Linked DNA regions of Homo sapiens. The protein of the gene in region 1 purifies or fractionates together with the protein of each later gene. This does not show direct contact. Each region holds a gene or a part of one and is shown in the gene's direction. Other genes may lie near its edges.

The links.
Region 2: the proteins of BBOX1 (region 1) and ITPR3 purify together in Homo sapiens (affinity purification with mass spectrometry; 3 studies listed by BioGRID and IntAct, with this or other methods). This does not show direct contact.
Region 3: the proteins of BBOX1 (region 1) and CASP2 purify together in Homo sapiens (affinity purification with mass spectrometry; 3 studies listed by BioGRID and IntAct, with this or other methods). This does not show direct contact.
Region 4: the proteins of BBOX1 (region 1) and RTF2 purify together in Homo sapiens (affinity purification with mass spectrometry; 3 studies listed by BioGRID and IntAct, with this or other methods). This does not show direct contact.

The regions. Positions count from the first base shown.
Region 1 is NC_000011.10:27,050,797-27,057,822, forward strand, and holds part of BBOX1 (gamma-butyrobetaine dioxygenase), read left to right. Parts: intron 1-4,572; exon of another isoform or gene 4,573-4,596; 5' UTR 4,597-4,634; coding exon 4,635-4,853; intron 4,854-6,404; coding exon 6,405-6,519; intron 6,520-7,026. UniProt on the Homo sapiens protein: Catalyzes the formation of L-carnitine from gamma-butyrobetaine.
Region 2 is NC_000006.12:33,617,367-33,624,321, forward strand, and holds the start of ITPR3 (inositol 1,4,5-trisphosphate-gated calcium channel ITPR3), read left to right. Parts: upstream 1-3,955; 5' UTR 3,956-4,236; coding exon 4,237-4,325; intron 4,326-4,422; exon of another isoform or gene 4,423-4,502; intron 4,503-5,979; exon of another isoform or gene 5,980-6,955.
Region 3 is NC_000007.14:143,298,331-143,305,356, forward strand, and holds part of CASP2 (caspase-2 isoform 1 preproprotein), read left to right. Parts: intron 1-186; exon of another isoform or gene 187-482; intron 483-1,592; coding exon 1,593-1,721; intron 1,722-1,873; coding exon 1,874-1,964; intron 1,965-2,049; coding exon of another isoform or gene 2,050-2,110; intron 2,111-5,453; coding exon 5,454-5,603; intron 5,604-6,343; coding exon 6,344-6,453; intron 6,454-6,609; coding exon 6,610-6,741; 3' UTR 6,742-7,026. UniProt on the Homo sapiens protein: Is a regulator of the cascade of caspases responsible for apoptosis execution. Might function by either activating some proteins required for cell death or inactivating proteins necessary for cell survival.
Region 4 is NC_000020.11:56,506,624-56,513,649, forward strand, and holds part of RTF2 (replication termination factor 2), read left to right. Parts: intron 1-6,691; coding exon 6,692-6,805; intron 6,806-7,026. UniProt on the Homo sapiens protein: Replication termination factor which is a component of the elongating replisome. Required for ATR pathway signaling upon DNA damage and has a positive activity during DNA replication.

The DNA.
Region 1 (7,026 bases):
TTCTTCCTTTCAGATTTGGATGCCTTTCATTTCATCTTCTTGCCTAATTGTTCTGGCTAGGACTTCCAGTACTATGTTATTAGAAGTGGTTAGAGTGGGCATTCTTGTCTTGTTCCCAATCTTAGAGGAAAAGCTTTCAACTTTTCATCAGTGAATATGATGTTAGCTGTGGGCTTGGCACAGATGGCATTTATTATGTTGAGATACATTCCCTCTATACATCTTTGTTGATAATTATTATCATAAAAGGATGTTGAATTTTATCAAATGCCACTTCTGCATCTATTGAAATGTCCACCTAATTTTTATCCTGAATTCTGCTAATGTGTTGTCATATTTACTGATTTGTGTGTGTCAAACCATCTTTGCATCCCAGAGATAAATCTCACTTGATCATACTGTATGATCCTTTTAATGTGCTATTGAATTCATTTTGCTAGTATTTTGTTAAAGATTTTGCATCTATGTTTACCAGGAATATTGGTCTGTAATATTCTATTATTTCAGTATTCTAGTCTGCCTTTGGTTTGAGGGTAGTGCTGGCCTCATAAAATGAGTTTGGAAGTATTCCCTCTCTGTCAATTTTTGGGGAAAATTTGAGTAGAATTTGTGTTAATTCTTCTTTAATGTTTGGTGGAATTCACTGGTGAAGCCATCAGGTCCTGGAGTTTCCATGGTTGGAAGGTTTTTGATTACCGACTTAATCTTCCTACTTATTCTGTTCAGATTTTCTATTCATGATTCAGTCCTGGTAGGTTGTACATTTCTAGGAATGAATTCATTTCTTCTAGATTATTCAATTATTGGCATGTAACTGTTCATAGTAGTCTCTTATGAGCTTTTGTATTTCTGTGGTATCAGCTGTAATGTCTCCTCTTTCATTTCTGATTTTGAGTCTTCTCTCTTTGTTTCTTAGGTTAGCTAATGGTTTGTCAATTCTACCTTTCAAAAAAGTTTTAGTTTAATTTTTTTCTTGTCTCTATTTCATTTATTTCTGCTCTAATCTTTATTATTTCCTTCCTTCTGATAACTTAGGGATTAATGTGTTCTTCTTTTTTCTAGTTCCTTGAAGTGTAAAGCTAGATTGTTTATTTAAGATCTTTTTTTATTTTTTATGAAGGCATTTATCACTATTAACTTCCTTCTTCAAACTACTTTTACTGCATCTCAAAAGTTTGTTATGATGTGTGCTATTTTGATTTGTCTCAAGATATTTTTAATTTCTCTTTTGATTTTTTTCCTTGACCCATTAGTTGTTCAGGAGTTTGTTGTTTAATTTTCACATATTTGTGAAAACTGAAAATTCACAGGAGTTTTTCAGTTTTTCCCCTGGTATTGATTTGATGACAAAGTCATTATCTTTCATAAAATGATATTTCATACAATTGCAAAGAGAATAATAAAACTTTTTGTGAGAATATAAACTGCAGGCAATTTAAAGAATATCTTTGGAACATTGCTTACATGTGTCCTCCCATATATGCTTTTACTCCCACAGTTCTTATTTCTTTTAGACTACATTTTTACAACAGCTCCATACAATGTATCTGATTCTAACCCTTTAACCTTCTTTCAATATACCATACACACTGTCATCACCTTCATTGTCAAATCTGCTACCTGAAAAAAATATTTAAAAAGTCCCATTCATAACAGAATGAAACCCAAACTCCTTATCTTGCTATGCATGGTGCTTCATGATCTGGTATCAACATGCCTTTTAATCTCTCTCAACCACCATTTCCCCTCATAGCCTTTTGTTCCAGCCAAACAACATGTTTTCTACTGCTCAAACACTGTATTTTCATATCTTTGTTGTTGGCTCAGCCTGCACCCTAAATGTGGAATGACCTTTCACAAATCTTCTTAAATCCAACTTATCTGTACCCAGATGAGCTAGCAAATAAAGGTTTAAATAAGTAAAGAATTTAGCTTTTATCATGTAAAAAGGAGGTCCAGACATGACCATCTATTGCTGGTAAAGTGTTTTCACAGAACCCTGGGGAACTCTTGACTTCTTTTAGATTTTATACTTCCGCTTCTTGCCTAATGGTTGCAAAATTACTGCTTCACCCCCAATACTACACTCACATTCCAGAAAGGAAGTGGAAAAAAATAGAGAAAACAGCATATGGCAGCCAAGTCTTATCACCTTTTTTAAAATTTCCCTACACAGCAACTTCCAAATATATTTCATTGGGCATAATTATATCATAACTAATCTTAGCTACAAAGAAAGCTGACAAAATATTTCCTAGTCAAAAAATGTTGTACTAGTGAGGAAGGAAAATAAGGTGAAACCGATATGCATTCAGCAATGTTGGCCTTAATATTTGTTTATTTTCATAATTGTCTTCTCCTGGTTGTCTGGAACTTCAAAGTCATCTTTGTACCTTCTAGTGCAGCATGCACAAAGAAGATACTTATTATATATTTGAGTAAGTTTAACTTTATAAATGACAAGGGAAAGAGAACCATTTTTGCATTTAAGCATGATTGTATTCCATCGTAATGAAAGCATAAACTTAGATAACTTGATCAAGAGTAAGCAAACTACTGCCTGGGGGCAAAATGTCGCCTACATTGTTTTTGTGCACACCATGAACTAAGAATAGTTGATACATTCTTATAGGGTTTTAAAAAATAAAAACAGGAATATGTAGCAGGGACTGTATATAAACTGCAAAGCCTAAAAGATATGCCGTCCGGCATTTTACAGAACATATTTGCCATCCCTTGACACCGGTTAAAATGTACTACATTTCTTTTTTTTAGTGTTATTTAAGGATCTAGTTGTATTATTCCAGGGTCATTGGAGCCATCTTTGTCTTTTGAAACAATGTATGTGAGAAAACTTGCCAGCCAACCCTTTCTCTTGTCAGGAAATTCAAATGTCCTACCCATTCCACAGAGAAACTGATGTTAGGACTTCCATAATGCTCCTCACTCAGACTTATGAGCTAAATTTCCAGGTTTGAAAGTACACTATAATTTTTGATTATTTTTAAGTAATAGTGTTCTCCTACCACTATACAAATTTAAAGAAAAAAATTATAGTTCCAAAGCAGAAATAAGCATGAGAGCCAATTAATTGTATTTCACACATGCAATTATTGGATAACTCTATATGTGAAGCTAAAGGGACAAAGCAATATTTTTCCTATTGACTCTGCTCCATAACTTGACTAAATTATCCAAGCCAATGATCTGAGGAAGCATATGTGAAACCACCTAGAAGTATTTTACTTTCATGTTGTGTAAGGTATATTTTAAGTTATCTTAATGTTGCATAAAGTCTTCCCATAATCTCAAGAAGGACAGGGAGCAATTTTATCTTACTTGTCACTAAATCCCCCAGTGCCTATTGCAGTGCCTGGAAGGGATTTTATAAGCTGTGTGTGTGTGTGTCTGTGTGTGTGTGTGTGTGTGTGTGTGTGTGCGTGCACATGTGTACATGCATTCCTACTTCCCCTTCATCTCAAGGCAATGAAGTATTGTTTCCATTGTCATATGTCACCTTCTGTTAATGATGAGCAGATCACTACATGGACGAAGTTAAGGAGCTCTACTTCTCGCATATAAATTCTACTTTTCCTATGTAAGTTCTACTTCATCCACGTAAGTTTAGAGTGCTGGAAAATAACATATGAAGAAAGTAAAATGTAAAACATTGGCATGGTTTCTGAAGGTCAAATATATAGTCACTAATGGAATCAGGATCAACACCGTTGCTCAAGCATAATACCACGGTGTCTCTGTTTCACTAAGTTTCCTCTCCTGTAAATAGTCCATGTCCTTAAATTTGCTGGATTTTTTTAATAAAAGTAAGTCATGTAATCCCAAGTAATATGAAGGTATACACAAGTACTCCAAAAAGGTTCAGAATAAAGTAACTGAAGTAACAAGGCACACTCTATTGATATGCATTAAAACAAAAAATCTCAACAAACCAAGCAAGTTTCTTGCAGAACCTAAGGACTTCTATATTTCATTAAGAAAATGTATTGTAAAGGTAAAAAAGCAAATGATAGAACAGAAACAGCGCAATATTCTGAATTGAAGAAACAGTGCAATATTCTGAATTACAGTGGTCTTTAAGTAAATAATAAGCATTAATATTCTCTTCATAAAGACGAGTTTACTAATTTAGTATCATAAAAACATTTTTTTTCAAAAGCCATGTCCAAGTGGGCACCAGTTAAAATAGGACAGGGGTGATTGTTACACTTTCAATTTGTGGAACATTTTTCTTCCTTAAACATTCCAGAGCTTTTATGCAAACATAATTATTAAAGTGCATATGTCATTGGTTCTGAACTTAATATCTGAATTTTCTGTGAGAAAAACAAGGAATTCTTTTCATTTGGATCCTGACTCAGCACTTACATCCCATTTACTTTTAGTCACTGTGTTTCTGCTTACAGTATGTGAAATACTCTCACCAGAACAAAGGTCCCAGCGTCAATAAGTCAAACCGCAGACTCTGACAGCTGAGTGAATAGCAGAGGCCAGAGTCCACTTGAAGTGTTCACACTCTCAGAGGCCAAGTTTAGATCTTATCTGCCTGAGATTCCTTTTAACACTGATTTGTCATAGCAGGTAGCTGACAGCATCTACTCCTGAAGACCGGAAACATGGCTTGTACCATCCAAAAGGCAGAAGCACTTGACGGGGCTCATTTGATGCAGATCCTCTGGTATGATGAGGAAGAGTCTCTCTACCCAGCTGTATGGTTGAGAGACAACTGTCCGTGCTCTGATTGCTACCTGGATTCTGCAAAAGCACGGAAACTTCTAGTGGAAGCTCTTGATGTGAACATTGGAATTAAAGGCTTGATATTTGACAGAAAAAAGGTAATTATCTCTAAATTATGTCTCCCTTCTTTCTCAAGTTCAATAATGGGGCTAGTCAACAATAATTTAGATAACTCTTTTTTATTTGGTCACGCATATATAACCGCATATGAACCCACGTTTGTATAGTACTTGGTGCGAATTAAGTATATTCAGTAAATGGAAGCTTCAGCTATTATTATTACTATTATCATTACTACTACTATTTTTAATAAAATTTGCAGTGTTACTTGTCTTTTAGTCAAATTAGTATGTAGAGATACAAGGCTTGTTCTGGGATTCCCAAAAGCACAGCTCTCAAAACTACAAACCAGAGGCAGCCACCATTCCATGTTTCTCTCTTCCAAATTTACTAGGATTCTTATTATGCTCTTGTCCACATCCCGACTTGAGGACTTTACTCCCAGATTTCACTGCTTGCTAGCTAGATAGAAATGTTGTTTACTCTTACATTTCTCACCTGAAAAAAATGAGAATAATAGTAGTACCTTCCCCCTAGAGTTGTAAAGATTAAATGTGTTATGTCTATAGTACTTGTTATGGATACTCAAAATAGTGTTATTTTTATTATTGCTGTTGTACTCCTTATCATCACTACTATTACTTACTTTTATTTATTTATTTTTGAGATGGAATCTTGCTCTGTTGCCCAGGCTGGAATGCAGTGGGGCGATCTCAGCTCACTGCAACTTCCGCCTCCCGGGTTCAAGCAATTCTCCTGCCTCAGCCTCCCAAGTAGCTGGAATTACAGGTATGGGCCACCATGCCCGGCTAATTTTTGTATTTTTAGTAAAGACGGGGTTTCACCATGTTAACCAGGCTGGTCTCAAACTCCTGACCTTGTGATCTGCCTGCCTCGGCCTCCCAAAGTGCTGGGATTACAGGCATAAGCCACCACACCCAGCTGCACCATTACTATTTCTAATACTCTTGGCAGGAATCTTAATTGACAACTAGCTTCAGTTATCACAGAAAGTTTGGGGATCCCAGGTTTAGAGGATGTAGGTCAAGAACTGTAGATCTATCCATGCTCTATTTCTTGAGTGCTATTTAAGGGCCTCAGACCTCAGATGTATTACTTTGGCTTCCTTGTTTTCCAAAAGCGTATGCTTAATCTCTGTCTTAAAAATTAAGCTGGCCAGGCATGGTGGCTCACGCCTGTAATCCCAGCACTTTGGGAGGCTGAGGCGGGCGCATCACAAGGTCAGGAGATGGAGACTGTCTTAGCCAACATGGTGAAACCCCGTCTCAACTAAAATACAAAAAATTAGCCAGGCGTGGTGTCGCGTGCCTGTAATCCCAGCTACTTGGGAGGCTGAGGCAGGGGAATCGCTGGAACCCGGGAGGCAGAGGTTGCAGTGAGCCGAGATTGCGCCACTGCACTCCAGCCTGGCAACAGAGGAAGACTCCGACTTAAAAAAAAAAAAAAAAAAAAATTAAGCAAAGCATAATTGGATTCCCTGATTATCTTAAACAGCATTCAAAAACAGAGCAATAGTGGAGAACGGAAATAAAATCCACATAGGTGAAATTTGCTTTTTGTGTTATAAGGTGTACATCACATGGCCCGATGAGCATTACAGTGAATTCCAGGCTGATTGGCTGAAGAAAAGATGCTTTTCCAAGCAGGCCAGAGCAAAGCTCCAAAGAGAATTGTTTTTTCCAGGTAACTTTGCCAAAGTCTTCAATGTCTTTTTAAACCCTTACAGTAAAGGATTTTTATTAAGAAATTTGCTCACAGAAAATTCAAACCTTTGTGCTTTGATTAAAATATGTGACATGTAAATTATGTGGTGTATTTAAAGTTTTACCGACAAATATCATTTGGGTAGAGATGAAAAGGAGTATAGAGTAATTCTAGACATTCTACAGAGAAAGAAACAAAATAAGTCCAGCAAACTTGTGTCTTTGTCATCTAAAGCAAAACCTGGCACAGCATACCACAGACACTCCGTAAGTGTTCACTACAAAGAAGCAGGATGAACTAGAGGCAGACTGGCCCTTTATAACAATTTTGTCTAAGGCCAGAACAACACAAATCAACAAAGCAAGAATTCCTAACCTGGTATTCATAGATGGAATTATGGGATTGATGAACCCATGAAACGGTACGCATAGCACTGCAAATGCCAGTGAGTGTGGGACAATTTGTGTGTGTGCATGTACACACACA
Region 2 (6,955 bases), on another chromosome or scaffold:
AATGTAGTTGGAGAAGGGTGCATAAGGAACTTCAACTGATCTTTTTTCTTTTTAAGACAGGATCTCACTCTGTCACCCAGACTGGAGTGCGGTGGCATAATCATGGCTCACTGCAGCCTCCTTGATCTCCCTGGGCTCAGGTGATTCTCCCACCTCAGCTTCCCAAGTAGCTGGGACTACAGGTGCACACGACCATGCCTGGCTAATTTTTTTTTTTTTTTTTTTTTAGAGACAGTGTTTTGCCATGTTGCCCAGGCTGGTCTTGAACTCCCGGGCAAAAGTGGTCCTCCAGACTCGGCCTCCCAAAGTGCTGGGATTAGATGTGAGCCACCTTGCCTGGACACAACTGAAATTTTTTAAGTTTTAATTCTTTTTTTTTTTTTGAGATTGAACTGCACTCTGTCGCCCAGGCTGCAGTGCAGTGGCATGATCTCGGCTCACTGCAACCTCCACTTCCTGGGTTCAAGTGATTCTCTTGCCTCAGCCTCCCGAGTAGCTGGGACTACAGGCATATGCCACCATGCCTGGCTAATTTTTGTATTTTTGGTAGAGATGGGGTTTCACTATGTTGGCCAGGCTGGCCGTGAACTACTGACCTCAGGTGATCTGCCTGCCTTGGCTTCCCAAAGTGCTGGGATTATAGGCATGAGCCACCGTGCCCGGCCTAAGTTTTAATTCTTAAAAAAAAAAAAAAAAAGAACCAAATTTGGCAAAATACAAAGATTTGACAAAGCTAGAGGAAAGATACAGGCACTCACTGTATTTTTATCTATTACTTCTTAAAATATTTCATAATAGTACTTAAAAGATTAGTGCTCCAGTACTTTAGGGAAGAAGACTTTATTCTGACCATGGGAACTTGAAAAGGTGAAGTGCTAGAGAGAGCCACAGGAGCGCAGGCACAGGGGTATGAGTGGATGAGGTCCTGGGGAAATGAGAAGGGACACACTGAGTCCTTCCTGCCTGGGATGCTGTGCTGATGGCTCACACTTCCTTCACATGTTGGTATGGTACTCTCTCCATTTAACAGATGAGCAAACAGGCTGAGAGAATGCCTGCTAGAAAGTGGCAGAGCTGGGACTCTAATCCAGGCCTGTAAGAGTCAGAGTCCGGGCCAGGCGTGGTGGCTCACACCTGTAATCCCAGCACTTTGGGAGGCCGCAGTAGGCGGATCATGAGGTCAAGAGATTGAGACCATCCTGGCCAACATGGTGAAAACTTGTCTCTACTAAAAATACAAAAATTAGCCGGGTGTGGTGGCGGGCACCTGTAATCCCAGCTACTCGGGAGGCCGAAGCAGGAGAATTGCTTGAACCTGGGAGGTGGAGGTTGCAGTGGGCTGAGATTGCGCCACTGCACTCCAGCCTGGGCGACAGAGTGAGACTCCGTCTAAAAAAAAAAAAAAAAAAAAAAAGGGAGCCAGAGTCTGCACTCTTGGCCAGTCTACAGCATGGATCCTCCTTGAGGAGCAATTGTGTTTTCTGCAGAGGGTGGGAGGACAGCAAGACTTGAGGGTCCAGTGTGCTGGGCTCAGGTCTGTAGACTTCTGTGGGCAGTGAGGAGGCATAGGAAGGCTTCAAGCAGGAAGCAGGGGAGGGAACTCATTGGAGCTGTACCATCTGTTTCTTAAACTTTGGTCTTTGTTGTTGTTGTTTAACCAACAGAAACTTTCTTGAAACAAATTCTAACTCAGAACGCAGGTATATAAAATAGCTTACAGTGGAGCTGATTTGGAAGAAGCAGGTGACAGGGGCCCAGAGCCCTCACCTCTGAGACCTCCTGGTTGGTGGAGAGACAGAGGCTCTAAGTATTCCTAGGATGGGGAGGGGTGGGGAGAAACAAGGCCATGTGCTTTAGTCCAGAGAGACCCAAAGTGGAGTGACCTCCATTCCTGGCTGCTACACCTCGGCTGAGTTATGGAACCATCTATATGGATGTCAGGGGAGGAAGGAGGTGGATTCCTGGGTGTGGCTGTGGCACAAGTTCTGAGTGTGGCCACTGGAGGCAAGTTTTCAACTTGTCCCTCTTCATCCTCACGGTCTGGGGAAGGGAAAAAGGCAATTGGGCCCAGGCTGACAGCTTGATCAGAGCCTGGTGCCCAGCAGAGGCCTGACATCACAGGCCTTCAATAAATGCTTATGGAATGAAGGCATATTTTTCCCTTCTAACTTTTGGGGATGATACAGGAGGCCTGACTCCTGGGAGCAAGTGAAACTGTCCCAGGGGCTGCCCCTTCTCAGTGAGGTTCCAGTGACCCATCGCTGTGGCTCAGTTGGTGTGGGGTAATAGGAGAATACCCGGCTAAAAATCAGAGGCTTGGTTGGCTTCTGCCTCCAGTTGCCAGGAACCTGCCGTGTGCCCTTGATGGGTGGTGTTCCTTCTCTGGGCTTTGGTCATCTCTTTTTGGCACAGTGGACTGGATGAGGTTTTTTAAACTGCAGTTTGCAACCCATTTGGGACATTAAAAAAAACCAGTTCAGTGGGTTACAATCAGCATTAAAGCAACAACAAGAACACAACTGAAATAGAATAGAAAATATCAGCATGCATCAAAGGTCATAAAAGTAAGTATTGTTTGGTGATCTATTGTTTTGCTTATATATAGACGAAGGTGTGGACTGGTCTGCTGTAAAACTTGTTACTGTTTGCCATGGTGAAAAAACAAAACAAAACTGTAAAACACGGTACTTAGCGATCCTGGAGGTGTCCTTCCCTCCCACATCGTTCCTGGGGGTCTTCGTAAAACAAACAAACAAACAAACAAACAAAACAACAACAACAACAAAAAAACCACTGCCTGGGGCTCTTCTCCTCCCAGGGTCAGCAGCTGTCTCTTTGCTTTTAGCTGTCTCCACCCCTCCCCTAGCCTCTCTTCTTCCTGCTTCAGTCACCGAGTCCCCTCCTCCCTCTCTCCCAGGGACAAACGCCCCCCCACAACTCAGGAAGTGGGGTTGGGGGGTCCGAAGGGAGCAAAAGTGATCGGATGGCGGTGGCAATGGGCACCCTATCTTAGGCGTTCAAATAAAGGACTAGGAAGCAAACACCCAAGCACCGGGGAACAGAACAGAAAGTAAGCGAGCCCGGGACGCGAATTTGAGGGCAGGACTTCGGGAGCCAGAGCCTGGCGGCGCTGCCGCAGCGGGTCACTCCCAGGGGGCCGGCACCCAGACTTGGCATCGTTAGCGCTTGGGTGCTCTGTCAACTAGCGAAGGTAATTTTCATCCCTGCTTTTTTTTTTTTTTTGAAAGGAAAGACGGAAGGAGCCAAGAGTTTTGGAGCCAACTCCTGGAGAGGGAGCGGCTGAACTGATTCGGAAGTTGGATCTCTTTGTACACAGGAATGCGGAGAGAAAAAAAACAAAACCCACCCCATTGCTTCATTTCCCCTCCAAGCCTGAGCACTTTCTATTGTGCAATGAAAAGGCTTTTCACGTTGAGAAAAATGAATCCCGAATTTGCTCTGCAAAGGGATGAGCGCGCCTCTGGGCGCCAGCCTGCTCTCAGCTGGGCGCGGAGACCGCGCGGTGGCCGCAGGGCGGCCGCGGCCAGGGCGCTCCAGGGCGCGCCCTCCGCGAGCGGCTCCGGGGTGACGCCCGCCGGAGAGCTGGACTCCCCCTTCCGCGGGCGCCTGCACTGGCTCTTAGCCAGCCGAGGGCCCGGGTGCAGATAGTCCGGGAACCCCGAGGGCGGAGAGCTCCCCACTACGCCTGGGCCTCCCAGGGATGGCAGCTCCGAGAGCCCCCTAGACCCGGTGCCTTGCAGGACGCCTCTGGAGATCAGGAGGGCTGGCGGCGCATTCGGCGTCCGGGAGGCCGGGCCCCGGACGCGCGAGGAGCGCGGGGCGCGGGAAGGCAGGCGGGTGCACATGGGTGCCGGCGGGCGAGCTGCGGGGGGAGGGGGGGCGGGGTGTGGCCTCCCCGCCTCCCGGGCGGGATTTGCATGTGTGTGGTGGCCCCAGACTTCCTGCTCCTTCTACGCTGCAGGTACGCGCGGGCCGGGCGGGGCGGGCGGGCGGCGGGCGCGCCAAGACGTGGGCACCTCCTCACCCGGACCCCGGGCCCCGCCGAGCCGCCTCCTGGCTCCCGTGGCCGCCAGCCCGCCCCGGCCGCACCGAGCGTCGGGATCCGAGGTGGGAGCGTACCCCTCCCCGCTCCCCGGACGCCTCAGTCCTCCGCACTGAGCTTGGCCACGCGCCCCTAGGCGCCCCCCACGCCCTGGGCCCCGGAGGGCCGCAGCCATGAGTGAAATGTCCAGCTTTCTTCACATCGGGGACATCGTCTCCCTGTACGCCGAGGGCTCCGTCAATGGCTTCATCAGCACTTTGGGGTGAGTGAGCCGAGCTCGAGAGGGGCGCGGGTAAAGAGGGGGCGCCGTGGGCCCTGGTGCCAGCTGCGTGCGTCCAGCCGCCGCCCCCCGATAGAGGCCTGGACGTCCCCCTAGTCTCAAGGAGCGGGAACGGCTCGCCTCCTTCTTTTACAGAAAGGAAGTGAAGTGTTTGCTCAGGTAGGACTCGGGCTCCCTACTGGAGTTGGCAGGAGGAGCCTCCCTCGGCGGCGCAGCCTCTACCCTCCCGCGCACGCCTTTGGAGGGGGCGGAGGGACGGAGGCTTCCTTTGCAGGTGGTCCCGGGGGCGGGCAGGTGGGTGGCTGGAGGCTGAGTTGGGGAAGGGCAGCCGGGCCGAGACGTGCCCGGCTCTGAGGGTAGGGCGGAGCTGTCGGGAGTGGGCAGGCTCAGCTTGGAGCCCGTAATCCTCTATTACCGATCCCGTGGTGCCTTTGAGGGGTCGCACCTTCTCCTCACAGCTCTCTCCCTGTTCTTCCCAGCTTCAGTAGGAGTGTCTTCTCAGCCCTCCCCTTCCAGGCTTCAAGGTCCTGGCCAGCTGCCCCTTCTCCCCGCCTCTCCCATTCAATTTCCTGCGCCGGTCATCTGGCGCCCTTGGGTCCTTGGTTCTAGCTTCTCTCCAGCACTTCACAAACATTAATTAATTCTGGCCGCCACCTCCCAGGGTCTGGGCTGGATGAACAGGGAATCAGTTCACGTCCCTGGAGAGGGCCAGGCCTGTAGCAGGGAGAGGGCAGGAGAGAAATTAGGTAGAGAGGATGGGTTTATCTTCAGAGGAGCAGCTGGATGTGATTCGCTGGATGGGAGCGTAGGTGGTTTCTCCAGCCAGACCCCAGGGCAGGGTCGGCTATCTTTGTCCCGTTTACAGTCTGGGGGCCTGGGTTAAATTGTCTCATCCTCCCAACCACACATGGCTGTCCTCTAGGGTACACCCACCCTCCTCTGCTGATCCACTGAGTGGGACCAGCCAGCCGCGTGGTGCCTTCTTTCTGATGGCCTTGGAGGACAACCTGGCACCCTCAGCTCAGGACTGATGCTGGACAGGGCCCGGCTCACCCCAAGCCTGGGAGGTGAGGGGTCACTGGTCTCTCCCAGGGTTGCTGGGAGTTTAGCTTTCATCTTGGTGTAAAGGGAATGGATTGTGGGATTGGAGGGCTGGCTCTGCCAAGCAGGGAGTTCTCACCTGGCATTCCAGCCTGCCCTGCTCGCCTTCTCGCAGAACCATCCAGGTCCCTCCTGGTGCCCTCCCCTTCACACGTGGAATCCCTGCCTATTTGTCCCCACTTCCACTAGATCTAACTTCTTCCCAGCTCCCTAGAGGATGGGGGTGGAGCCACATCTGGGCCAGCATTTGTGCAGGCCTCCTCCAGAGAGCAGTGACTAGGCCCTGGCTGCCCTGAGGCCAGGGCTGCCCACAGTAGGTACAGAGTAAACACCTCTGATAAAGCTGAGGGAAGGAGGAGAGGGTGTGGGGACTGGGAGGGACATAGGGATCTATCGTGGAAGTCCCCTCCTAGTGTCTGAAGAGCACCAGGGACTTTTGGGAAATGACCACCTCTGTTGCTTAGTGCCTGGCTTGGGGCTGAACACATGATGATTTTCAAGTGCCTGTGAGTTTTGTTTTTTTTTTTTTTTTTTAAGACAAGGTCTCACTTTCTCACTCAGGCTAGAATGCAGTGATGCAATCTTGGCTTACTGCAGCCTCGACCTCTGGGGTTCAAGCAATCCTCCTGCCTCAGCTCCCAAAACTAGCTGGGACTACAGGCACATCACCACACCCGGCTAATTTTTGTATTTTTTTTGTAGAGACTGGGTTTCACCATGTTGCCCAGGCTGGTCTCTAACTCCTGAGCTCAAGCAATCCGCCCACCCCAGCCTTCCAAAGTGCGTGAACCACCGTGCCCTGCCTAGCACCTGTGAGATTTAACAAGATCAGGGAAAACATCTTATTGCTTCTTCCCCTGCCCTTGTGCAGGCCTCACTCCCTCACAAAGGATTCCCTCTGTTGCCTCCAAAACTTCCTCCCAGCTTGGCCCTTCCTGCCCCAGGAACTGCTTCCTCCAGTCCACCTTGATCCTGGGGCAGATCCTGGTGACCTCTAGAAAGCCCTTCTACGCCGGGGTACCCCCTCCCTCTGCAAACACCTCCAACATCTCCTGATGTTCCACCAGCGGATGTCCACCCTCCTAGCATGGCTTTCTAGCATCGGCCTGTGCAGGTCTGCATCATAATTTTCTGGGGCTTTTTCACCTTCCCATACCTGGAACTCCAGGTGCACCACACGACTGCAACCTGTCCCGCGCTCTCAGTCTCTTTACCTTTGCTCTTGGGTTGTTCCCGCCCTTTAGCAAGCAAGTCTCCACCTGGGTAAATCTGTCCCACCCTCTAAGGCTTAATGCAAAGTGGCCTCTTTTGAGAAATCCAGCTTCCCCAACCCCTAGGGCAGAATTAACCCTTCGTCCTCTATGCTTTTGAACTGCTTTGTACAAACCACTCTCTGGTGTTCCTCACATTGGAGGCTTCCCTGTAGGCCCATCTAATGCTGGGCACCTTGCCAGGATTAACACCATTCATATATTTAGCAGGTCTACAGGCACTGTACTGGGTGCTGGGGA
Region 3 (7,026 bases), on another chromosome or scaffold:
TGTTTTCTTTCTGCCCATCTCAGAAGACCCAGACATCGTGAATTATAGAGGGAGGCATAGGTTTAAACATGTGTGCCCAATTATTATGCTCTTTAGGTACACAGTATAACCTTCTGATGGATGGACCAAATGCTTAAGGTAGTGCTCTTCATGTATCGCAACTTAGTGCAAGATAAACAAGATTCTCCAGGCATGGTGGCACATGCCTATGGTCCCAGCTACTCTAGAGGCTGAGGCAAGAAGATTCCTTGAGCCCAGGAGTTCTAGGCTGTAGTGTGCTATGCTGATCAGGTGTCCAAACTAAGTTCATCATCAATATGGTAACCTCCTGGGAGTGGCGGACCACCAGGTTGCCTAAGGAGGGGTGTACCAGCCCAGGTCAGAAATGGAGCAGGTGAAAACTCCTGTGCTGATCAGTAGTGATCTTACACCTGTAAATAGTCACTGCACTCAAGCCTGGGCAATATAGCAAGATCCTGTCTAAAAAAAAAAAAGATAAACAGGAAAACAGTTCTTAAGTTGGACTACAACATTGACCAGTAATAGATTTCTTTGAGAAAAATACTCTTTATTCGACATGCACATTGTAATGGCACATTTTTTGCAATGTGTCCCAGACACAGTGATCGGTTTTTGGTTTTTTTTTTGAGACAGGGTCTCTCTCTGTCACCCAGGCTACAGTGCAGTGGTGCAGTCACAGCTCACTGCAGCCTCAACTTCCTAGGCTCCAGTGATCCCTCCACCGTAGCCTTTAGAGTAGCTGGGACTATAAGCATGCACCACCATGCCTGGCTAATTTTTTTTTTTAAAGATGGAGTCTTGCTAGGTTGTCCAGGCCAAGTCCTTTGTCATAATATCTCATTTTTATCTTCACAAACTTAGAGAAAATATCCTCATAATTTTTTTTTATAAAGTGAAAAGTGAGGTCTCAAGGGTCTGAGTAAGCTGTTCCAACTCATGAAGCCAAGGTTCAAACCTAGATTAATCTGAACCCAGGACCTGTGTATGTAATTACTGCCCTGTACAGAATCCTCCTTCATAGCGTGCTCTTTCTGAAACAAAGCATTTTATACAGTCATCATCATTATCTCTTGGACACTTAGAATCTTAGAAGACAACATACAAGTATTGCTATTCTCTACTATCATGATGCTGTCACAGAACAGTTTATTTTCGTGTAGCTGAATGTGCATGTTACTTATTCATAGCTACACTTTGAGTCACCCTTGTGCCATTTATATACAAGGGCAGTTGCTCTAATGAAGGATCTGGTTATGAACAGGGAATTAATCAGAGTTGACCAGCTCATGATTAGCTTCTTTAGTAACTTGCTTTAATCCAGGAGCTGTTTGCCTATCTCAGTGAGTCTGAATCTGTATTCAGAATATTGTGTCTGAACTCATATGCATTTTTCTGGTGAGTCCATAGCTTTCTTTAGTCTCTCAAAAGGTCTCTTCTTTTATCATTGACCACAGGAATATACATAAAGCGTTTTATCTTCTAATAGCTTAGGGTTTCAAAAAGAAACCAAACTTTGATGCTTATGTTGGTGCTGACCTTAGTGCACAACACTAAACATTCCTTTCTTTTAGGAAATGCAAGAGAAACTGCAGAATTTTGCACAGTTACCTGCACACCGAGTCACGGACTCCTGCATCGTGGCACTCCTCTCGCATGGTGTGGAGGGCGCCATCTATGGTGTGGATGGGAAACTGCTCCAGGTGCGGATACCCTGGTGGAAGCCAACTGTTGAAACCAGGCTGCTTTACCTCCTGCCTGCTGTCTGTCAAGTGATGGCTACTGTTGCATGTGTAGGACTTAGGAGGCCCCGCTGAATGCTTAACCTCTCTTCTTCCTTCTTTCTTTCTGGCAGCTCCAAGAGGTTTTTCAGCTCTTTGACAACGCCAACTGCCCAAGCCTACAGAACAAACCAAAAATGTTCTTCATCCAGGCCTGCCGTGGAGGTGAGTGCCCTAGCAGACCAGCACCTGGGTGGTGGCTCCTGGGCAGCCTCCCACCAGCTCTCACTTTCCTGTTTGCTCCTCTCAGGTGCTATTGGATCCCTTGGGCACCTCCTTCTGTTCACTGCTGCCACCGCCTCTCTTGCTCTGTAAGTGTCTCCCAATGCATGGGGTGTGCTGGGACTTGGGCAGCCCATGGCTCTCAGGCTGGTCAGCTCTCCGTGCACCACCATATCCTGTTTTCAGGTCTCTTATCCCGTGTCTTTGCCTTCCTTTCTGAGAACTCTTACTCTTTTCTGTGCTTCATTAACTCTGGTGCCCTTTTTTTGGTTACTCATTCCAGTTACGGATTTTTGATCTGTCTTTTTCCTGTCCTTCTTATTTTATCTCCTTTCTTTCACTCTTTGTTCTTTTCACTTGTTCCATATACTTCCCTGTTTACCTACACTTCCATGCTTGCCTCCTTTCTTCTTTCTTCTTACCATTCTTGGGTCATGCAGGATAGCAGAACAGAATCCGTGTTGGCCTTTGACTCTTCCTTTTCCGTGAGCTGCTGCTGCCCCTCTTTCTCTCATGCAGTCTGTTTTACTCCTTTAAGAGCCAGGACTGCAGGACGAGGATTAAAAGACACATAGGTGTGCTTCTCATCCTGGAGGAAAATAATAGTAATTAAGAGCCCTAACTTTGGAGTCAAATTCTGACTTCACCATTTACTAGTAACGTGAAGTTAAAGAAGTTAAATGGCATCCCTCCATCTCAGTTTCCTCAATATAAAATGAAAATAGTCCTTGTACCTACTTCATAAGGTGCTTGTGATGGTTAAATGAGATTATGCATTTAAGGGCTTACATAGCTCAGTACCTGGCTCACAGCACATCCACAAAATATGCCAGCTGTAACTCTTAAAACACGATCAGTGCCGTAAAGGGCTTATAGTTTGCTTTAAAGGTCACTTTGTCCAAACATTCAAATAATTACTTTTTTAATCTCTCATGTGGCCAAATGTAAATAGCTAATATTATTGTCATCCTGATCTAGTATTACCGCAGAATATAGTCTGCTGAGGCCCTGCAACATGACTCAGACTACGGCAGTTACTACCGCAAAAGCAGAAGGAAATGTGGCCTCTCTAAGGAGCAGACCAGTTACTCAGGAAAATAAAGTAAATATACATGAAGTAGCTTAAGACTAGTTCACAGGCCTCATGTAAGCAAAGGTGAAATTAGCAAGGTACAAACTGTACTTAGGAAGGAGTATGCAGTAAGAGTAGATCATTTTAAGTGAGGGTAGTTTAAAGAGATTTTTTAGATAAGATAAGGCTTAATTTGTACCTGGAGTAATTTGATTTACATAGTTATAGAGTAGTATCTAGAGTCTGTCGTAGGAAAGAAACAATACAATATGATAAGTACACTGAGAGGCAGAGGGCATGTTGTGTCTCCCCTCCTCCCAAACAGATGCTCGGATCTGATTTTAAAATAGCATCTGTGTGAGTATGTGAGATGTGGCTGGTCACAATGAAGTGGGTTCACCTCCTTACAAACCTTTAGTCATAACTGAGGTTTTGGACATCAGCAGGTAAAAGTAAGGAACAGTTGGGAGCTTAAGTAAGAAATAATGTGATGAATTGTTTTTCCAGCAAGGTTGCCATGGAGGGGGCTGCACTAAGGAAAGAGGTTATGGGTCAGCAACTTTACTTTTCATTCCCTGCTCTATCCCCAGGCCCAGGGCACTGCCTGATGCATGGTAGCACTTATAAATGTTCAATGAATGGATGAAAATTAATCTGCCTGAAAAACTGTAGGTATTATGTAAAAAACAAATATGAGGATATTGTGACAAAAGAACCAGTGACATTTATTGATTGATGGATCTGTGATATAAAGGTGAGAGAGGAATTCTCCTTTCTCTTTAGCTTGGCCTGTTTCCTTTAGGCGTCTTTACTAACAAAACGACGTTAAATTGTGATTTTCTCATCCTATATCCAGGGATTTAATACACTATTGGATCTGGATAAGGAGTAATTGCTCTTTTCTGGAGTAATCTGGATCTTTTGCTCTGTCTCTCTAACTTTTCTGAAATTAAATCCTTCAAGGAATGACCAGTAGCCAATTGTTCCATTGAAAATTTGAGTTCACCTGTCTTCCTGCTGTATTTGGTTAATATAATTAATGTCTAGAAAAAGCTCCACCCCCCTGCCCCAGTCAGCTTCTAAACTGGAGTGTAAGCTCCATGACGGCAGGAATTTTCTCTTCACTCTATCCCTAGGCCTTAAAGTAAGACAGTGCCCAACACATGGCAGTTGCTTGACACATTTTTATTAAACCTGTGCTTTGGTCCTTTTCCCCCAATTCTTGAAGCTTCCCTTCTTTCCTAGGCTCCCTCGACATTGCATGGATCAGGAAGTACTGTAAAAGAGCATACTCTTACTTTTGATGTGTTGACCTGAGAGTCCTCCCCATCTGTCTTGCCTACTGACAGCACCCCTGCCCACACCCAAAATAAAACAACATCATCAAAAATAAGAGTCTGTCTTGGGATACATAAGGCTTGTATCAAGAGCAAGGATCTGCTCAGGGTATGTTGAGAAATTACTGCTAAAATTGAATAAGGATGATCTTTTTAAATTTTCTGGGAGAAAACAGTCAAGTTCTCCCCACTTTAAGTTTTTCCTCTTAAAATTTTCATAAGGCCAGGTGCAGTGACTCATGCCTATAATCCCAACACTTTGGGAGGCCGAGGCAGAAGGATCACTTGAAGCCAGGAGTTCAAGACAAGCCTGGTCAACGTAGCAAGACCCCATCTCTATTAAAAAAAGAAAAAAAAAGATTTAAAAAGTTATTTTAAAAAATAAATTAAAAATTTTTTTTCTTAAATCTTGGATGCTTGCTATAATTTATCTTATGAAATTAATAAACATAGTGCTTCGAAGATATCAAAACCACCTTGGAAACAACTGATCATACTTAGTTTTATTATTTTTTGATACATAGTTCGAGGTTGTGATTTTTATATAGCATACATATGGTAACCGTATTTGTTATTTATTACCTTGTTTTTTCTTGTTTATGTAATTAAATATATCAATATTTTATTATGTATTGCAATAAAAAGCACTGTGACTCCCAGGCATATTGTTAATTGAACAAGTGAGTTGTGGACTTAGATGATTTTCAGTTCCATTTACAAGGAGTATTTGATTTGGCATTTTCCCTGTCTTACACAGAATGGGAACTGCTCCAACCGCATAGATGTGCATGTGCTTGAGCGTGGTGCCCGGTGTGTATGAGGCATCCCCTGAGTAACAGATGCATGCTGAGAGAGTAATAATTTTTTTTTTTTTTTTTTAGTTTATCAGCCATAGGTTGGAGGCAACAGCTGGAAATGGCTCTTCCCCTTCAAGGTTGTAGGGAACGTGGGCTTGCCTGTGACAGGCCCAAGAGAGATAGGAAGAAGTAACATCATTGTCCATTCTGTCTGCCTTTGTTACAGATGAGACTGATCGTGGGGTTGACCAACAAGATGGAAAGAACCACGCAGGATCCCCTGGGTGCGAGGAGAGTGATGCCGGTAAAGAAAAGTTGCCGAAGATGAGACTGCCCACGCGCTCAGACATGATATGCGGCTATGCCTGCCTCAAAGGTACTTTGAGTTCCAAAAGAGTTGAGTCATACCTCATTTTGTTGCACTTTGCTTTATTGTGCTTTGCAGGTACAGGTTGAGTATCCCTTATCTGAAGTGTTGGAACCAGAAGTGTTTCAGATTTTGGATTTTTTTGTTTTTTTGGATTTTGGAATATTTGCGTTATACTTACTAGTTGAGTATCCCGTATCCAAATATTCTAAATTTAAAACACTCCCATGAGCACCTTCTTTGAGCATCATATTGGCACTTGGAAAGTTTCAGATTTTGAAGCATTTCAGATTTTTTGGATTTGGGATGCTCAGCTGCTTTTTACAAATTGAAGGTTTGTGGCAATCCTTTGAGCATCTGTCAGCACCATTTTTCTATTGGCATGCCTCTGTTAGCATTTTTCAGCAATAAAGTATGTTTTAATTACAGCATATGCATGTTTTAGACATAATGTTGTTGCACACTTAATAGACTGTAGGATAGTAACCATAACTTCCGTATACACTGGGAGACCTGAAAATTTGTATGACTTGCTTTATTGCCATATTCACTTTCTTAAGCTGGTCTGGAAACAGACCTACGGTATCTCCAAAGTATGCCAATAATCCAAAAGAGTACCCTCCTAGACTTAGATTCTTCATGCTGGGTTCTCTGACTAGGGAGGGTGCAGGTGTCATGGCCGAGTCTAGTTTGGGAAGTGCAGCTGTGTGATGGCATTCACACTGTGATTAATGCCCTTTTGGTTGCAGGGACTGCCGCCATGCGGAACACCAAACGAGGTTCCTGGTACATCGAGGCTCTTGCTCAAGTGTTTTCTGAGCGGGCTTGTGATATGCACGTGGCCGACATGCTGGTTAAGGTGAGCCAGCGGGCTCCGTGACCCCTGTGTGTCTCCACAGTGCTCTACTTTCCTCCTCTCTTGAATGCTCTTTCATAGTCCGTCTCCCCTTCCCGTTTGCTGCTCTCCTGAAGCCCGAGATTCTCAGACTTGGGCCTATTGGTTCTGCCCCTCCAGGTGAACGCACTTATCAAGGATCGGGAAGGTTATGCTCCTGGCACAGAATTCCACCGGTGCAAGGAGATGTCTGAATACTGCAGCACTCTGTGCCGCCACCTCTACCTGTTCCCAGGACACCCTCCCACATGATGTCACCTCCCCATCATCCACGCCAAGTGGAAGCCACTGGACCACAGGAGGTGTGATAGAGCCTTTGATCTTCAGGATGCACGGTTTCTGTTCTGCCCCCTCAGGGATGTGGGAATCTCCCAGACTTGTTTCCTGTGCCCATCATCTCTGCCTTTGAGTGTGGGACTCCAGGCCAGCTCCTTTTCTGTGAAGCCCTTTGCCTGTAGAGCCAGCCTTGGTTGGACCTATTGCCAGGAATGTTTCAGCTGCAGTTGAAGAGCCTGACAAGTGAAGTTGTAAACACAG
Region 4 (7,026 bases), on another chromosome or scaffold:
TTTCGTTTAACTTATGATAAGCATTTTCTACATTGCCCCAAACTCTAACCATATAATCTTCCTTTTTGGGAATGTATTATAATTTTTTTTTTTGAGAGAGAGAGTCTCGCTCTGTCGCCCAGGCTGGAGTGCAGTGGCACGATCTCGGCTCACTGCAAGCTCCGCCTCCCAGCTTCACGCCATTCTCCTGCCTCAGCCTCCCGATCAGCTGAGACTACAGGCGCCCACCACCATGCCCGACTAATTTTTTGTATTTTTAGTAGAGACGGGGTTTCACCATGTTAGCCAGGATGGTCTCGATCTCTTGACCTCGTGATCCGCCCGCCTCGGCCTTCCAAAGTACTGGGATTACAGGCGTGAGCCACCGCGCCTGGCCGTATTATGATTTTTTTAACCATTTCACCCATTCTTTGGACATCTGAGTTTCAAGCGATAAAAAGGATGAAGATACAGTTTTAAATGGATGTATAATTTCTACCGTACAATAGCAGTACTCAAGAAAAATGCATTAGCAGGAAGATATGGGTGATTTTCTGTTGGTATAATACATATTATTTACTAAAGAGGTGGGGAGCAGGTCCCTGTGGACCAGCTGTGACTTTGCGGCAGCCCCACTCCCCATCTCCGCAGTAGCCCCTACCCTTGTTTTCCCTCATCCTTCAGGGATGAACCACTGCACTCAGGTCTCTCGGGTCAAGCACCTACCCAGAACGAGTGATGGGGCCCCTAGCAGTTGGGAGGACTCTGCCCAGTCTCCAGGGGCAATTCCTACCAAGGTTCAAGCCATTGAGGCCCTTGAGGGTGTGGGTTTGGTGTTAATGGATCTTTTGAATTTTCGAGAGAAAGAGCAAGATTACTCAATTTCTAATGTGAGGGGTTCCTGACTTCTTATTGTCAGTGGCCAATTCAACTTTAAAAGTACAATAAGTCTGGGCACAACACAACACAACTGTATGCAGAATAAGGTCCATGTCCTCTGAACAGTCTGATCTAGAGGAAGGAGACCGCTTACCCCAACACTGTCGGAAGGAGGGGCAGCAAGGAGTGATAGAAAGAAGCAGCAGCAGAAACCCAGGAGGAGAGAAAAAGAAAGGTGGGGGCAGCACCCACAGGGAGCAGACGCTGGGTTCCTCCCCACCCCTGGGCCCTTTACGTCATAGCCACAGCTCCAGGCCCCACTGGGCCTTAACTACCACCTGGTTCTGTTCCTGCAGATTCTTTTTCATTCCAAGGAAGAGACCATCTTCCAGAGCCAAGGGAAAGCTCTACTCAGACCTCCCATAGCGTGAGACTTCCCAGGGAACCTCCTCTAGCAGAGCAGGCTGTCCCTCCTCCTGTAGGCCCAGCTCTCTACAGTGATGGCTAAAAACAAGCTCCTTTTCTTCAAGGGTTGTACCAGTTAAATGCTAGATTGGGCACGTGCTTCAGTCATTCATATAACTTCTCTATGGCACCACCCTCAGGGATTTGTGGGTCAAAAAGGTATCTTCAGTCACGAAAATTTACCAGACCCACCCTAGAAAAAAAGCTGATCTTAACCTGAAAATCACTGTTGGAGACAAGAACCACATTAAATAACCCAGCTAAGGCAGGGGCTGAGGAGAGTCAGCAAATGCTTGTTGGTATCTTCTGTGCATTTGGGAGATTCTGGAAAATCTTTGGCAACTTCAGGAAAAAAAAAGTACTTTTATGGCTTTTCTTGTGCTGATAATGTTTTCTACAAAAGAGATTCCGGGCATAGTATGTCTGTTATTGCTCTGGGCACAGTAGGTCTGTTAAAATTACTGTTCCAGTTGTTGAAAGAATTTTGTTATTATTTGGTTGCCTGCCTTTATGTTTTTCAAAGGCAGTGTCTTATGGAGTAACTAAATATTTTAGTTAATAACAGACCTTATCTGGCATACTTTTAAACATCTATGACTATAACATTTAATAGAGTTTTTCATAGATATTAGAAAGATAAATTTTGGTTGATCCACTCAATATGTGACTCTTTGAAGTCATGTTACCTACACTAATCAAGATAGTGTGGTGCTGGCATGAGAACGGGCATATACATCAATGGAATAAAATAGGGAGTCCGGAAATAAACCCTCACATGTATGGTCATTGATTTTTGACAAAAGGGCCAAGTCAATTCGATGGGGGAAAGAATAGTTTTTTCAACAAATAGTGTGGGGTAACTGGATATCCACATGCAGAAGAATGAATTTGGACCCTTACCTTACATTGAATGTAAAAATAAACTCAAAGTGATCACAGACCTAAATCTGTAAGTTTTAGTTACAAACCACTTAGGAGAAACGCAGGAGTAAATCACAATCTTGGGTTAGGCGATGACTTACTAAATATGACACCAAAAACGTAGCAGTAAGAGAGAAAATTGCTAAGTCCAATTTCATCAAAATAAAAAACTTTTGTAATTATCCAGTGTAAGATATTTTGTCATAACAGTCTTGGACTAAGACAGAACTTATATCCAGAATATGCTGTATAAAGACCTCTTAGAACGCAACATCAAAGAGACAAATAATACAATTAAGAAATGGACCAGGGATTTAAGCAGACATTTCTCCAGAGAAGGTATACAGATGGTCAGTTAGCACGTGAAAAGATGCTTAACATCTCTGGTCATTTGGGAAATGCAAATTAAAACCACAATGAGACAGCACTTCACTCCCATTAGGATGGTTATAACTAAAAGGAAAAATGGGCTGGTTGCAGTGGCTCACACCTGTAATCCCAGCACTTTGGGAGGCAGGTGGATCACCTGAGGTCGGGAGTTCAAGACCAGCCTGGCCAACATGGTTGAAATGCCATCTCTACTAAAAATACAAAAATTAGCTGGGCATGATGGCGGGGGCCTGTAATCCCAGCTACCCAGGAGGCTGAAGCAGGAGAATCGCTTGAACCCAGGAGGTGGAGGTTGCAGTGAGCCGAGATCATGCCACTGGACTGCAGCCTGGCGACAAAGCGAGATCCCATCTCAAAAAAAAAAAAAAAAGAAAAACGATGACAGGTGTTGGGAAGGATGTGGAGAAATGAGAATCCTCAGGCATTGCTGGTGGCAATGTAAAATGGTGCAGCCTCTTTGGAAGTTCATCATTTGAGGAGAGGCAGTTCCTCCAAAGGTTAAACATAAAGTTAACTTATGGCCAGTCATCCCAATCCTAGGTATCTACCCAACAGAAATGAAAACAACTGTCCACAAAAGACTTCCATGTGAATTTCTTAGTCTGAAAGTGGAAACAACTCTGTCAGCTGATTCATAGATGAAACTTTATTTGGCAATAAGAAGAAATGTAGTTCTGATCCATACTATAACATGGATAAATCTTTAAAACATTATGCTAAAATCCAGTCACAAAAAAAAAAAACATGTATATTGTATGATTTCATTTATAGAAATGTCCAGAAGAGGCAAATTTGTAGGATGGAAAGTAGATTAATGGTTGCCTAAGACTGAGGAAAGGGGAATGGAGTGAGTGCCAGTGGGTATGGGATTTCTGTTGGAAGTGATAAAAATATGCTAAAATTAGATTATGGTGATGGTTGCACAACTCTAAATATACTAAAAGCCATTGAACTCTATACTTCATTATGTTATGTAAATGAGATTTCAGAAAACCTGTTTTTTAAAAAGGCGAGTTAGGTAGCAAATGCACGTGGTGCTGAAGCTGTTCCTTTTAGAGCCGGCTCTTAGCATTCTGTGTCCTGAGCATTGTGCTGTGAGCTAAGAGATAGAACATGATTTCTGCTTCCCCCACCCCTAAAAAAAGGTTTGGGAGATCAGAAGATGTAAAACAGAAACCCAGAATGCTCTTCTAAGAGTTAGCTACAGAGTAAATAAAAGTTTGAAGAGACTTCCTCAGGCAGGGGAAGACAGAAGTTTCATAGACAAGATGATAATAGTAAGCTCACTGCTCCATTTTTTATTTTTAAAAACTTGCCACCCAACTCATAGGGGGCAGAGACTATGTCTTAACACAGGGCCTACCAGCTTCAGGGTAAAATCAATGAAATCTTTAAACTGAGGCTAGGCATGGTGGCTCACGCCTGTAATCCCAACACTTTGGGAGGTTGAGGCGGGTGGATTACCTGAGCCCAGAAGTTCAAGACCAGCCTGAACAACATGGCAAAACCCTGTCTCTACAAAAAATACAAAAATTAGCCAGGCATGGTGGCGCACACCTATAGCCCTAGCTACTCAGGAGGATGAGGTAGGAGGATGAGGTGGGAGGATGGCTTGAGCCTGGGAGGTGGAGGCTGCACTGAGCCATGATGGCACCACTGCACTCCAGCCTGGGTGACTGAGTGAGACCCTGTCTCAAAGAAAAAAAGTTTACATGACTATGAGTATGTTCCATAAATGAATCCTTTGAATGTTATATATGCTATGAATATTTCACTTAGCCTTTGGCTTATTGTTTTTTGTTGTTGTTGTGACATTGTCATGTAAAAGTTTGTAATTTTTACATGGTAAAACTTATTTTTTTAAAATAAGTTTTTAAAGTTTAAATAAAAATTATTTAAAATAAGTTTTAAAGCTTTAGATCACAGGTCCCCAACCCCCATACCGGTGACAGTCCGTGGCCTCTTAGGAACCGGGCCACACAGCAGGAGGTGAGCCACAGGCGAGAGAACATTAGTGCCAGAGCTCCATCAGCGGCATTAGATTCTCTTAGGAGCACAAACCCTGTTGTGAACTGCGCACGTGAGGGATCTAGGTTGCGTGCTGCTTATGAGACTCTAATGCCTGATGATCTGAGGTGGAACAGTTTCATCCCAAAACCTTCCCCCAACCATCTATGGAAAGATTGTCTTCCATGAGACTGGCCCCAGGTGCAAAAAAGGTTGGGAACTACTGTTTTAGATGACATTTCCTACCCTAGTTATAAAACACATTTTCCTATAAATTATTCTTCTTTCCTTTTTTACATTTAGGTGTTTATAACCCTAGTCCAGGGCTTCTCAACCTCAGCACAGGGGCATCTTGGCTGGGTAACTCTCTGTGGGGGGGCCATCCTGTGTACTGTATGATGCTTGCTGCATCCCTGGCCTCTACCCACAAGATGCCAATAGCACCTGCACCCCAGATGTGACAGCTAAAAATGTCTCCAGACATCGCCGAATGTCCACTAGGGAGCAGGATCAACCACTGCACTTGCGTTAGACCCCAAGTGGTTAGAGAGCCACTGCACTTGGGTTAGACCCCTCTTTTTTTTTTGAGACGGAGTCTCGCTCTGTCGCCCAGGCTGGAGTGCAGTGGCACGATCTCGGCTCACCATAACCCCTGCCTCTCGGGTTCAAGCGATTCTCTCACCTCAGCCTCCCGAGTAGCTGGGACTACAGGCATGTACCACCACACCCAGCACCACCATACACAGTTTTTGTATTTTTAGCAGAGACGGGGTTTCACCATATTGGTCAGGCTGGTCTCGAACTCCTGACCTCAAATGGTGATCCGCCCACCTCGACCTCCCAAAGTGCTGGGATCATAGGCATAAGCCACCGCGCCCAGTCTTAGACCCCTCATTTTTGCAGCTGAGGAAACTGAGGCCCAGAGAAGTGGTGTGGCCTGAGCCAGGTGGCCTAGACAGATGGTGGCAGAAATCTCAATTCAAAATGCAGGACTGGGAACCTCCACTCCTCGTTCTCTTTTTTTCCCTGTTTTTCCTGTCCCCAGCCGTGAGCACCTCTGCTGTGCTAGGCACTGGGTAGCTGCTGGGGCCACAGCAGGGAAGAAAACAACATAGACAAAGTGATGAAGACAAGACTCCAGGTCATGATTAGTGCCATGGAGCCAACACAGAAAGAGTGCTGGGATCCCACCAGTGACAGCATGGTCACAGGGAGCCTCTGCAGAGGTGGCTCACTCACTGACAGCTCTGTGAGTGTGGGCATGCCTTTGGTGTGTATGTGTGCGTTTCTACCACCACAACACTGTCAGGATGGTCTAGACCCTGCTCGCAGTCTTGTTCTGCCGGGGTGTGTTGGGCGCCCCCAAGGCTGCCGTCATGCTTGGGGGTTTTCTGAAAGACTTGAGACTTAGCATATGGTTGTATTCAACTAACATTCACTGCAGCAGCGTGGTATGGATGCACAGCTGGGTGTTAAGGGAAAAGGCGCATGTAGCAGAGTCTGGAGGAATCCACGTGGGGCTTCCTTACGCGCACTCCCTCCCTCAAGGGGTTGTACGAAGTGAATACTTCCCCCCGCAACGAAACTGCAACACGTGTGATGTTTTTGCCCAGGGAAGCAAATGAGAGACTCAGTACCCAGAGTTTTGGCTGAGGGCTGGCTTTATACCCTCGGCCCAGCATGTTCCAGAATTCCACACTCCCATAAGCAGGTAGGTGTCAGCATAGACCACGTTGTTCATACAAAAGGGTCTAGGCACGGTGAGCCAAGCTACTCTTGTCAGTTAAAAAATGGCGGGAACCCTCCCAAAATCCAAGTTCCCAGACACCATCCAGGCACCAGCCTTGCAAGTGATAGCACTCTTAACCTGCTACGCTGACACTTTGCTGTGTGCGGGAACTTTCCAAACCAAGGCTTTGACCAGAAAGCCGGTAATAGGAATTTACTCGGAGCCTGGGGGCCACTGCTTGGGGCTGAGAGTGGGGGACTGAAGCGTGGCCTCCCCATTGACTGGTGATGGAATCTGCCCTCTCTTGTTTGCCCTCTCCAGTGTGGGGCTGCCTTCCAGGAGGATGATGTCATCATGCTCAATGGCACCAAGGAGGATGTGGACGTGCTGAAGACAAGGATGGAGGAGAGAAGGCTGAGAGCGAAGCTGGAAAAGGTAATGGGAGTCTTCAGGTTCCGCCCAGCCCCCATCTCTGCTCCAGAGCCGACTGCAAATCACTGAACTGAGCTGGCAGCTGCTTAGGGGTTTGCATGATCAAGGCGATTTTTATAACCTAGAAGGGCCTGGACTGTAGAAGCAGATTCCAGCTGAGGCCCAGGCACTGCCTTGCTGTGGTGAGCACGGCGGCTCTGCTCTTCCCCGCCGAGCTTTCTCAT